Linked DNA regions of Homo sapiens: region 2 is linked to region 1. A link means that fine-mapping ties the variant in region 1 to the expression of a gene that starts in the linked region. Tissue or cell type: whole blood. Region 1 holds a variant in brackets; the other region holds the start of a gene. All regions are shown on one strand. Distances are between the middles of the regions.

Region 1 (5,143 bases):
TCAGGGGCACGGCCTTCAGAAACAACCCTAGTGACATCTCAGACCTCCAGCTTCCGGAACTCTGAGATAATAAATGTCTGCTGTCTGAGCCATCCAGTCCGTGGTATTTGTTATGGCAGCCCGAGCAGACTAATGCAGAAACTAAAATCCAAAACTTCTCACCACCCCCAATGCCCTGCCAGACCTGCACCTGCCTTCCTCTCCCACCTCAGCCCGCACCACTCTCTCCCGCAGGCTGGGGCTTCTCTCGGGCTCTCTCCCACCTCCTGGCCTTTGTGCACGCTGCACCCTCCACCTGCCCAGCTTTTCCCTGTTATCGTTTTGACTTAAACGTTACTTCCTAAAAGGCAGCCTTTCCTGCCCTCATAACCCCATCTAAGTAGGGGGTCCTTCTCATTGTCCCCTCCATACCTTGTCAATCACCATCAGGGTATCTTAATTCTTTCCTTCATAGGGCCTCCTCTGGATTTTAAGCATCGCATTTCATCGCCTTTAAGATGCAAACTTGCCCACATTTGAGCACTTCTGAAATTCTGATGCATTGTTACAGTTGATGGTGTGTCAGACTTTGACACACCTGCTTTTTCTTACTTAGTGATACAAAAAATAATGGCGAATCTGAGGGCATCCTGGATTCACTGAAGTGCAGTGGAAATGTGTGGGTTTGATTATTTAATTAATGTGTCATCCCCATCAATCTGGTAAGCTCCATAAGGACAGCACTGTTCTTATTGTCTCTAGCACTATGTCCCCATTGCTGTTCCTTAGAAATGCCACACCATAACTCTACGCAAGTAAATGCTGACCCTTTGAAGTGAGTGCTTCTAACCTGGCTGTCCATGGATGGCTTTAGGCCATTCACAACCCCCGCCCTAGAAGATTAAGTAATCCCTAATTGTGCTACATGTTCCCCCACCAGGACAAAGTCCCAGACTGTGCTGTAGGAAATGTGGCCCTCCCCCGCACCCCCCCCCACCCCCGACTGCGGCCTTGCCCCAAGCCTTTGGTTACCCAAGAATTTAAAGGAAGTGAATTTCATCTCTGGAAAATGTCACCCACTTGGAAAGAGGCTCCTGAATGAGGAAACTCATTTATAAAGTCTGTGGGCAGCTTTTTTCCCTTAATCTCTCGACTGTTACTTCTGCATGGCAAGCTGCACTTTTGTCTCTCCGTTGGAAAATTCAGGGTGGCTGATTATGCAAAGGCCTGCTCCCTGGTTGGCTTTGGGACTCTCTCCCTGCCGTGAATGAATGCTGGGTCCCTGTGTCAGGGTTCCCTGTTCCTGGCGATGCCCTCACCAGAAAAGCCTCTTTGAAGCATGGAATGGAAGCCAAGTTTACGTGGGGTTTAGGCACGTCCAGCCACGTCCTGTAAGACATCTAATTCCCCCACACTTCACTAAGGAATGAGCTCTGCAGTCCACTTCAATGGCACACAGGGCTGGGGTGAGGCTTCGGTGTGGGGGGAGGGGACACTTGAACCGTAAGAAAGGATGAGTGCGTTGTAAAGACTGTCCCCCTACCTTCTGGAGGAGGCAGCTTTAAATGTGCAGGAATTTCACTGGGGACCTGGTTCAGGACCTTCAGAGCACAGCCCCTCTGTCAGAGACATCCCAGATCAAGATGGGAGCTGCTCACCCACTCTCCTGTAAAGGGTTCTGGAAAAAGTATGCCCTTCTCCCCACTGGAAAAATAATTCCCATTCTTTCTTTAATCCACAGGCTGTAGCTGTAAATACCTGAGCATGCAAACATCTCCCTGGGGCTGGTAGGGATTAGGCCAGAATCAGCCTGGCCCGTGGCACGTACATAGCTGGATAAACCAGGGCCCAGGGTCAGGAGAGGCGCTGGCCAAGAAGTGTCAGGGGCTGGGGGAAAGTGCATGGAGGCCAGGCATTCAGGGGCTTCACAGGGGGCCCTTGTCACTTCTCTTCCCATTGTAGTCAAGATGCTAGCAACGTGCTGAGGGCCCTGGTGCTTATTCCTCTGTGTCTTCTTCCACAAACACTTCCACCATGTGAAATTCCCCTGCTTGGAATGCTCCTTATCCAAGTGTTGCTGCAACCTCAGTGCCCTGCTGCACCCTGAATTTCTCTGTCCCTCCATTCCTGGCACCCCCACAGACTTCTCACTCAGACCTTTCCCTCCTGGCTCCCCAGGGCTCCATTCCTAGTTGTCTTTACCGTGCAGTTCTAGTTCAAGTCCTGCTTCATCCATGAGGAATTTCATTCACCCGACATTTACTTACCCCGGGCTCCTGGAACTTAAGGGTATGATCTGTCGAGCATGAGGCAGAGGTGCTGCGGCTGAGGTG[G/A]GTGGGCACCTAGTGATGTGCTCCCTGGGAACTGGAAGGAGGAAACTATTTCTGCTCCAACAAGGGATTTGGGAGATGCAGGCTGTCCAACGGTAAGCAAGCTCTAGGCTAGTGGACAAGCTGAATTTGTTTGAGGGGTGTGGGAAGAATTGGTTAGGAGGTCACTGCCGTGGTGCAGGTTGGAGGCTGAGTAGATCTCAGGAGGAAAGGCTGGCAGTGGGGGAGCTCTTGGATGCAGAATGAGCAGTACTGGGAACCATTAGATGTGGGGGATGAGGGGGCGAGTGATACCGGGTCTCAGGTCTGTATGGCAGAGGCCCTGCGAGCAGCAGCAGGTGGGGTGGCAGGGCAGGGATGGCCCTGGGAAACAGCCCAGTGGCCTGAGCAGCGTGAGGGGCTCCCAGCATCAGACACAAACGTGATCTTCAGCAGGGCCTCTCTGAGGTCAGCCCTGCCTTGAGTCAGACAGAAAAATGCCCGGACCCCTTTCCCTGGGGACGGCATTTCACATCAGGCCTCTCCCTCATCCAGGTTGGCTGCTTCCTGAAGACCCCGAGGTTCCCCATCTGGGTGGTTTGCAGTGAGAGCCACTTCAGCATCCTCTTTAGCCTGCAGCCGGGGCTCCTGCGTGACTGGAGGACTGAGAGGCTCTTTGACTTGTACTACTACGATGGCCTGGCCAACCAGCAGGAGCAGATCCGGCTGACCATTGGTGCGGGCCCTCACCCCCCCACCCACCCAACCCTGTCCCCAAGGAGCCTCCAGGCTGGTCACAGAAACCAGCCTTCCTATCCACCACCAACCCCCATGACAGAGAGCAGTGCAGACTCCAGCATCCAGACTGGGGGATCAGAGAGCCAATGCCAGCAGGGCCTCCCTGCAGGAGGCGGCCAGAGCTGGGCCTTGAGCAGTGAGTGGCATTAAGGGCGTTGGGTAAAGCCTACACCACATGGTAAAGAGCCCTGAATACTATGCTGACAAGTTTGGATGTATTCTTCAGGCAGTGGCGAGCCATGGAAGGTTTTGGAATCAGGGTGGTGAGATCAGAAGTGTTTTTAGAAAGAGTATTGTGGTAGCTAAAGTGGGACACGGGTGGGGACCAGTGAGTTGTGCAGGTGAGAATGGATGTCAGGGATGAGGGTGGGTCCAGTTGAGATGGAGAGGAGGGGACAGGGACTAGAAGGGGGCGGGTCTCGGGAGTGGTCAGCGCTGACCTCAGGGTGAGTGCAGGGCCCTGGGTGACATGTGTGTGCCTCTCTCCTCCTTCCCAGACACCACCCAAACCATCTCTGAGGACACAGACAACGACCTTGTCCCACCCCTCGAGCTCTGCATCAGAACCAAGTGAGTCAAGCCCCTCTCTGGCTTTGAGCCTCACCCTGAATAGCTTTGAGGAGCCATGGTTGGGGGTGGTCAGGCCTGCAGGAAGGCAGATAGGTTCCTGGACCACCCTGATTCAAAGAGGTGTGGTGATTGGAAAGACACAGGTTTCTCCACTCGTGGTCACTGGGGCCCAGGTTCAGGAGTGTGTGGTCTGCAGTGGTGATGCGTCTTTAGACAGCTTCTGAGACTGCCTTCATGGTTGGGGGTGGGGGCTAAATGGGCACCTCTTGAAGCCCCTCCTCCCTCAAGGCAGCAGCAGCCAGATGTGGCAAGTACCGTTAGGCCCGAAGGAGGCAGGACAGGGGTGCTTACCTGAGGGTGGGGGAGGCTTGAGCAGGATAGGAAGCTGGGAGGCCTGGCCCAGCCTGGGGGTGGCAGGAGGTGCTGCCTGGAGCGACACCCTCTGCTTGCGGAGGAGCCGGAGGAGCAGCTCCGCCACTCTGAACACTGAGCAGTGTGCCTCTGGCCTCAGAGGCAGGTGGGAGCTTCAACTCCTCTGACCCAGCCCCTCTGTATTTAAGGGGAGGCTGAGGCTCAGGCCAGGGGAGGGGAATGTTCAGTAACTGGGGTGAGTTGGGGCTCACCTCCTTGCTGTGTTCTCTGAGTGGGCCCCTGGGCTGGTGGTGCGGTAGCTGTCAGAAGTGCTCCCCTTGCCCCGGCAGGCCCTTCACAAAGCCCTTGGGGCATGACCCAGAGGCCTCAGCGTGCATGAGAGGAGCAGCCCGGGAGGGAGAGGCCTGGATCCTGGTCCCTTCTGGGGGAGCAGTGGAACTGGTAACCTTTATGAGTGTGGGCTCTGGAGAGAAGTCGCCTGGGTTCCAGCCCTGGTGTTGCTGCTTCTTGGTGTGAGCCACTGGACCTCACCTTCCTGCACCCCACTTTGTCATCTGTAAAATGGGGGTGATGCATACCTTTCTCACTGGACCTTGTGAAGAGTGTCTGGGACGTTACTAAGTGCTCCATGGTGTTTGTGCTCACGATGATGACCTCAGCCACTCCTGATTTGGTGTGATCTCAGAGAATCTCCATTTCTCTGCCTGTGAAATGGTTGGGGTTGTGACGGGGGATGCAAAATGGTGAGGCCCTGCAATGCTTACTGCCTGAGATCCAGGGGGCACAGCAAGCTTAGGGTTGATGCCCACCACAGGAAAGCGAGCCCTTGAGAGGAGCTGCAGAGAAAGAGAAATGTTCACATGGTGGAAACACCAGGAAGGGGAAATGGGAGGAGCGCCGAGACATCCTCGACATGCTTTGTCCGTCCGTCCGTCCATCCGTTCGTCCATCCACCTGCCCGCCCCCTGAGCCAGGGATGAAGCATTCTTGCAGGGTCATGTGCTGGTGCTTCTTTCGTCGGGAGGATTAAGGGCACCTGCAGGTCGCTTTCCTTTCATGTACAAAGGGCCACTCATTCAAAATGATGAGAGAAAGGCAGCAGTGGGGACAGGAGG
Region 2 (5,143 bases), 110 kb before region 1:
CACAATCTCTTATGGAGCATAAATCTGTCTCATGTTATTCTTTCATTATTACACATCATCCATCAGTGTGTCTTCACAGCTGGAACATGAGGGCCCCTGGACCAAGCATCATACTGTCTCCTGCAACTCTGCCCTTCTCTCTCTACATATAAGAGCACATGGCTCTTTCTCACATAGCACAACATGTTCAAAAGAGGCTTCTCAAAGAACCATTGCACGTTGAGAGGGGAAATTGCCTGGAGATTATGGTGCAATCTGCCACATTAAAGCTACGTCCTATGGAGACTGTATAGGGTGAGATAGTTGCTTCCCAAGTGTGGTACATGTGCCAGTGGTGGTTGTAAGGTGATTTAGGTGAATGCATACCTTTCTGGTTTTGTGTTTGTTTTAATGTGTATTAGAGATTTAATAAGCACATAAAACCCAAGATCTTGTGGCTATTACTGCTTGGGAACACTTTCCTTTTAAAATAAATTGTAAAACATGTATGTGGATTTAAAGAAAATAATACATAAGTAACTGTATAGGGGTTAAGGGCTGAATTGTGTCTTTCAAAACTCCTGTGTTGGGCCGGGTGCGGTGGCTCACGCCTGTAATCCCAGCACTTTGGGAGGCCGAGGTGGGCGGACTGCCTGAGGTCAGGAGTTCAAGACCAGTCTGGCAACATGGTGAAACCCCGTCTCTACTAAAAGTACAAATATTAGCTGGGCACGGTGGTGGGCGCCTGAAATCCCAGCTACTCAGGAGGCTGAGGGAGGAGAATGGTTTGAATCCGGGAGGTGGTTGTTCACTTGGCAGTGAGCCGAGATTGCGCCACTGCATTCCAGCCCGGGCACCTGAGCGGGACTCTGTCTCAAAAAAAAAAAAAAAAAAAGAAAAAAAAATTCCCGTGTTGAAGTCCTAATGCCTGGTATTCCAGAATGTGACTGTGTTGGATAGGGTCTTTAAAGAGGTGATGAAGTGGAAATGCAGTCATTAGGGTGGACCCTATTCCAATACAACTGATGTCTTTATAAGAAGAGATTAGGACACAGGCACACACGGACGGCTAGCCACGTGAAGACACTGGGAGAAGGTGGCCATCTATAATAGAGGCCAGGGAGAGAGGCCTCAGGAGAAACCATCCAGCTGACACCTCGATCTTGGTCTGTAGCCCTCAGAACTGGGAGACAATAAATGTGTTGTTTAAGCCACATGGTCTGTGGTACTTTGTATGGCAGCCCAAGCAAAGGAATACAATAGGTAACATGCGGAAGTGGCAAAGATTGTGAAGGTGGAACCCAGGTGACTAAGTTCGGGGAAAATGTACTGGGCTTGGTTAGAAACCCAACTTTCCCAGTACCCAGCTGTGTGGGCCTCAGCAAAATCTTAGCCTTTCTGAATCTCAGTGTCCCGTTTTAAAGAATGGGGCCAACAGTAACTACCTAGCCAGGAAGTTGTAAGGATTAAAAGTGCAACCGTGAGTTAAGAGCTTGGTGATCAATAAATGGCAGTCTCATTACGGGAAAGCAGGCACCAAGGGGGCGAGGAACATCTCCTTTAATTTCGGTGCCCAAGAAGCAGAATGCTGGGCTTCCTTGCCCCCACCGTCAAGGCCCGCCAAGGTCAGTAGCGTTGGTGGCCCCAGAGGGGGCCGTGGTGCTGAGGGTGGACCTGAGGGGGTCACTTCCCTGTGAGTTTAGTCCTCCAGAAACAAGGAGGCAGGTATTCTTCCCATTTTATGTCTAGGAAAATGGAGCCTCGGAGCGGAGCGGTAATTTGTCCTAGGCCTCTCAGATGACCAGGGCCAGGGTCAGAGTGAGGCCCCGAGTCCGGAGCCGTGGACGGGGCCCTAGGCGACACCAGGGCGCCCTGACTGCGGCCTCCCACTCCGAGACGCGAGTTTGCGGGACGCTCCACCCCTTCCCTCCCGCCCCAGCCCGCCAGCCCCAGGGAAGGGGAGGAGTTCTTGCCGCGCCGACGCCGCCGTCGCCACGGCAACGCGGCCATACTGCGCCGGACAGACCCAGTTGCCTGGTGCTGCGGCCCGGCGTGGGCCTCGTGGGCAGAGCCAGAGCCAGAGCCATGGACAGCCTCTTCGTGGAGGAGGTGGCCGCCTCCTTGGTCAGGGAGTTCCTCAGCAGAAAGGTAACGGCTCGCCCCCTCCAAAGCCCAGGAAGTGGCTCTAATTTGGGGGGATCATCGGGGTCTCCCCTGAAGGCTTTGCAGCTTCTGGGAGGGCGCCCGTTCCCTACCTACTGCCTGCTCCAGAGATGCCCCAGAAGAGCGCCGCTTTCCCGGGACAGGGGAAACTACATTTCCCACGAGGCGTTTCTGCCGTCGTCACCGGGCGCTTCCGCAAGGCACGGTTTGGACCCCGTCCGCTGCCCTCCTGGGGCATCCGCGCTCCGGGGCGGCGGCAGCTGGGGAGGGGGCCTGGGGGCCGCGCCAAGCAATCCTAGCGCGGGCGCACAGCGGGCAGGCCTGCGCCCTAGCCTGGCTGCCGGCCTCCGTGCGCTACCCACGCAAGTCAGGGTCCCACTCGGAAAGAACTTCTCCCAGAGGGAACCCCAAAAGCCCAGAAAAGTTCTTGACGGTCAAACCCTTAGTCATTTTAGTCAACAGTGGGAATTCCAGTGGTTGCTTTAATTTTTGTAAGTTTTCCTATTGTCTTGTCCCAGGAGAGTTTTTGCAGTGTTCACAAGCTTGGAAGGTCCTTAGCTGTCATCTGGCCTCAGGGTGGAGATGGGGACCTCGGTGGGGAAGGAGCTCGCCGGGGGGTCTTGGGCGTGGTAGTGGAGGGGGACATACATTAGCTCATTCAGCACATGGTGACTGAGGGCTGCACTCTGTGTGTTTTGTCTGTCCTTGCAGTGTCATACTGGGCTAGGGCGATGGGTACTTGTCTTGTATGAAAACACATACACGTAATTTTTTGAATGGAGGAAAGGGGAAGGACTTTGAAGTCAGACGGAGACAATTCAAATATTTGCTACTAGTTTGCAGTGTGAACCTCAGTACTTTACTCACTGTCTCAATTTCGTTATCTGTAAAACAGGAAAGTAAGACCTACTCTTTGCAGATTTATAATGAGGATTAATATTAACATATGGGCAGCTTCCAAGCATTGGATCTGACATATAGATACAATGTGCACGTAGGTGTTCAACTTTATACCTCCTCCCACCCTCACTGTTTCTGACACCAAACAGGTGTCTCTGAAGTGCACCTGTTTGGAAAGTGTCTTTGTGTGTTTTTTATGATTTATTTTTATTTGAAAAAATTTTAAATGCGTTTGGCTTTGTCGCATCTGCCCTGTCTTTATGGCTAATTGACCTGCCATCACCTGTCCTGGCTGCATGTTGGATATCAATTGACACACCCTGGAAAGCTGACTGTTAACATCATTTCTTTTAAGTCTGGGTCACTGAAAAAAACTCTTAGAGAGGGCTTCCTCGTGTTCTTTCTTGAGTACAAATGAAATCCAGTGTCCTCACTGACATCCAAGCCTGCCCTGTAGCTTGACCCCAGCTTACCATCTCAATTTCATTTCTAGCCTCTCCCACATCCCTCCCCACCACCCCCCACTTGACATGGCCGAGTTCCCCTGGTCTCCTCTCCCTCGCATGTTTTATCTGGGCACACTAAGGCCCTAAGAGTAGAAAGGAGTTGCCCACAGTTACTCAGAAGGTCACAGTGAGCTGGGACTGCAGCCCAGGTATACTGCTTTCTCATCGCCTTCTGCTCTAGGGCAGAGACCACGTGCTCCCCACAGGGTTTTGCACAGGCAGTCATTGCACCCAGCAGTCGTAACCAAGAGAGCTGCCACCTTGGTGCCAGGTACCTAGAAGGTGCTGGTTTGTTGTCTCAGATCCTCGTAACAGTCCTGAAAGATAGGTATAAGTATTCCCTTTCACATAAGATTATTGTGAGACCAGGAGGCCAAGAAACTTGCCCAGGGTGAGCAGGTCAGACCATGTAATTCCCCTGCTCAAACCCCTCTACTGGCTTCCCATCATAATTAGACTTCAAGTCTCTCCATTACTTGGCTCTGGCTACCCTCAGACCTCATCTTCCATGACTGCTTGCTCCGCCCTCTACCCTTCAACCACTTTGGCCTACTTGAACTCACCAAGTGTGGTCTTCCCTCGGGGGAGTCATGATAGTCTCCTGGAGATGGCAGGGTCTGCTGAGGTGACTCTTCTGCTGCCCCAGCTTCTTGAGTCTGTGGCTCCACTCCTGCAGTGACTGTGCCATCCTCCCTCTGCCACCCTGCCCCATGGTCATGAGCTGGGCTTGTTGTTACCAGTACTGCGCCCTTTCTGTAATCTCAATTCCAAGCTTCCCACCTGTCAAAATTTCTAGCTTGTTTCCCATCATAGCCCCACGTAAACTCTTCTCCAGCCTCACCACATCTATATTGCATTGTTCCTGCCAACTTTTCACAGTCCCTCGGGCCTACCATAACCCACCTACCTCTCACCCACCCATCCTTATAATTGCACCCTCCATAACAGGTGCAGCTCTTTTGCGCTTCTCTCCTTTCATCATTCTCTTCTGACAGTAAAATTCCACTCGTCCTGCTCTACACTTGCGCCCATAGAGCTGAATGAGATTGGAGAGAAACACACACCACTATGTTGATGGTATCACTCTAAATCCATGGCCACTCACCCTTGTGGTGCCTTATGGGTGCCTGCCCACCTGGTTGCAACTCTCCAGACTGTTTACCCTCTGAGACCCTGGATGACCATTTCATACCTTCTCTCTCTTCAAACCCTGAAGCTCCTTCCCCATCTAATTTCACTGAGAAAACAGAAGTCTTGAGAGAAGTCCAGCAGGCTCCCACTACCACACTTACTCACCTTCCTGGGCTGCACCATTCACTCTGCTCTCTTTAGTGTTCTTGTGGATGAATTCTCCATACCCCTGGTTAGGCCCACCCCTCCATGTGTGCATGCCCTCTCTTGTGTGCTCAGGGATGTCGCTGTCTCCTGCACCATGCATTTCCCTCCTCTACTAGGTTACTCCTATCAGCACATGTTGTGCTCCTGCAGAATCCCATCTTGACCCCCAAACCCTAGCTACTGGTTTATTATTTCCTCCCTTTCTATAGAAACCCCATAAAGGACCTGTGTCTACTTTCATTTTAATTCTTTTCTCT

What was found. PIP is the estimated chance that this variant, and not a neighbour inherited with it, causes the effect.
Region 2: MINDY4 starts here. The variant in region 1 is fine-mapped to the expression of MINDY4 in whole blood (TOPMed, PIP above 0.99).

The regions. Positions count from the first base shown.
Region 1 is chr7:30,879,338-30,884,480 of GRCh38, forward strand. MINDY4 (MINDY lysine 48 deubiquitinase 4) reads left to right here. Exons shown (of 18, transcript NM_032222.3): 16 at 2,844-3,024; 17 at 3,584-3,656. It overlaps INMT-MINDY4 (INMT-MINDY4 readthrough (NMD candidate)), which reads left to right. Exons shown (of 20, transcript NR_037598.1): 18 at 2,844-3,024; 19 at 3,584-3,656. Among named protein-coding and RNA genes, the nearest start is that of AQP1, 30 kb to the right of the region's middle. RefSeq lists an enhancer at 4,707-5,143. The variant G/A (reference allele first, on the strand shown) is at 2,313.
Region 2 is chr7:30,769,430-30,774,572 of GRCh38, forward strand. MINDY4 (MINDY lysine 48 deubiquitinase 4) reads left to right here and starts at 1,988. Exons shown (of 18, transcript NM_032222.3): 1 at 1,988-2,127. The coding sequence starts at 2,065. All of the region lies in intron 3 of INMT-MINDY4 (INMT-MINDY4 readthrough (NMD candidate)), which reads left to right. RefSeq lists silencers at 1,869-1,918, 1,979-2,028, 2,399-2,548 and an enhancer at 2,104-2,398.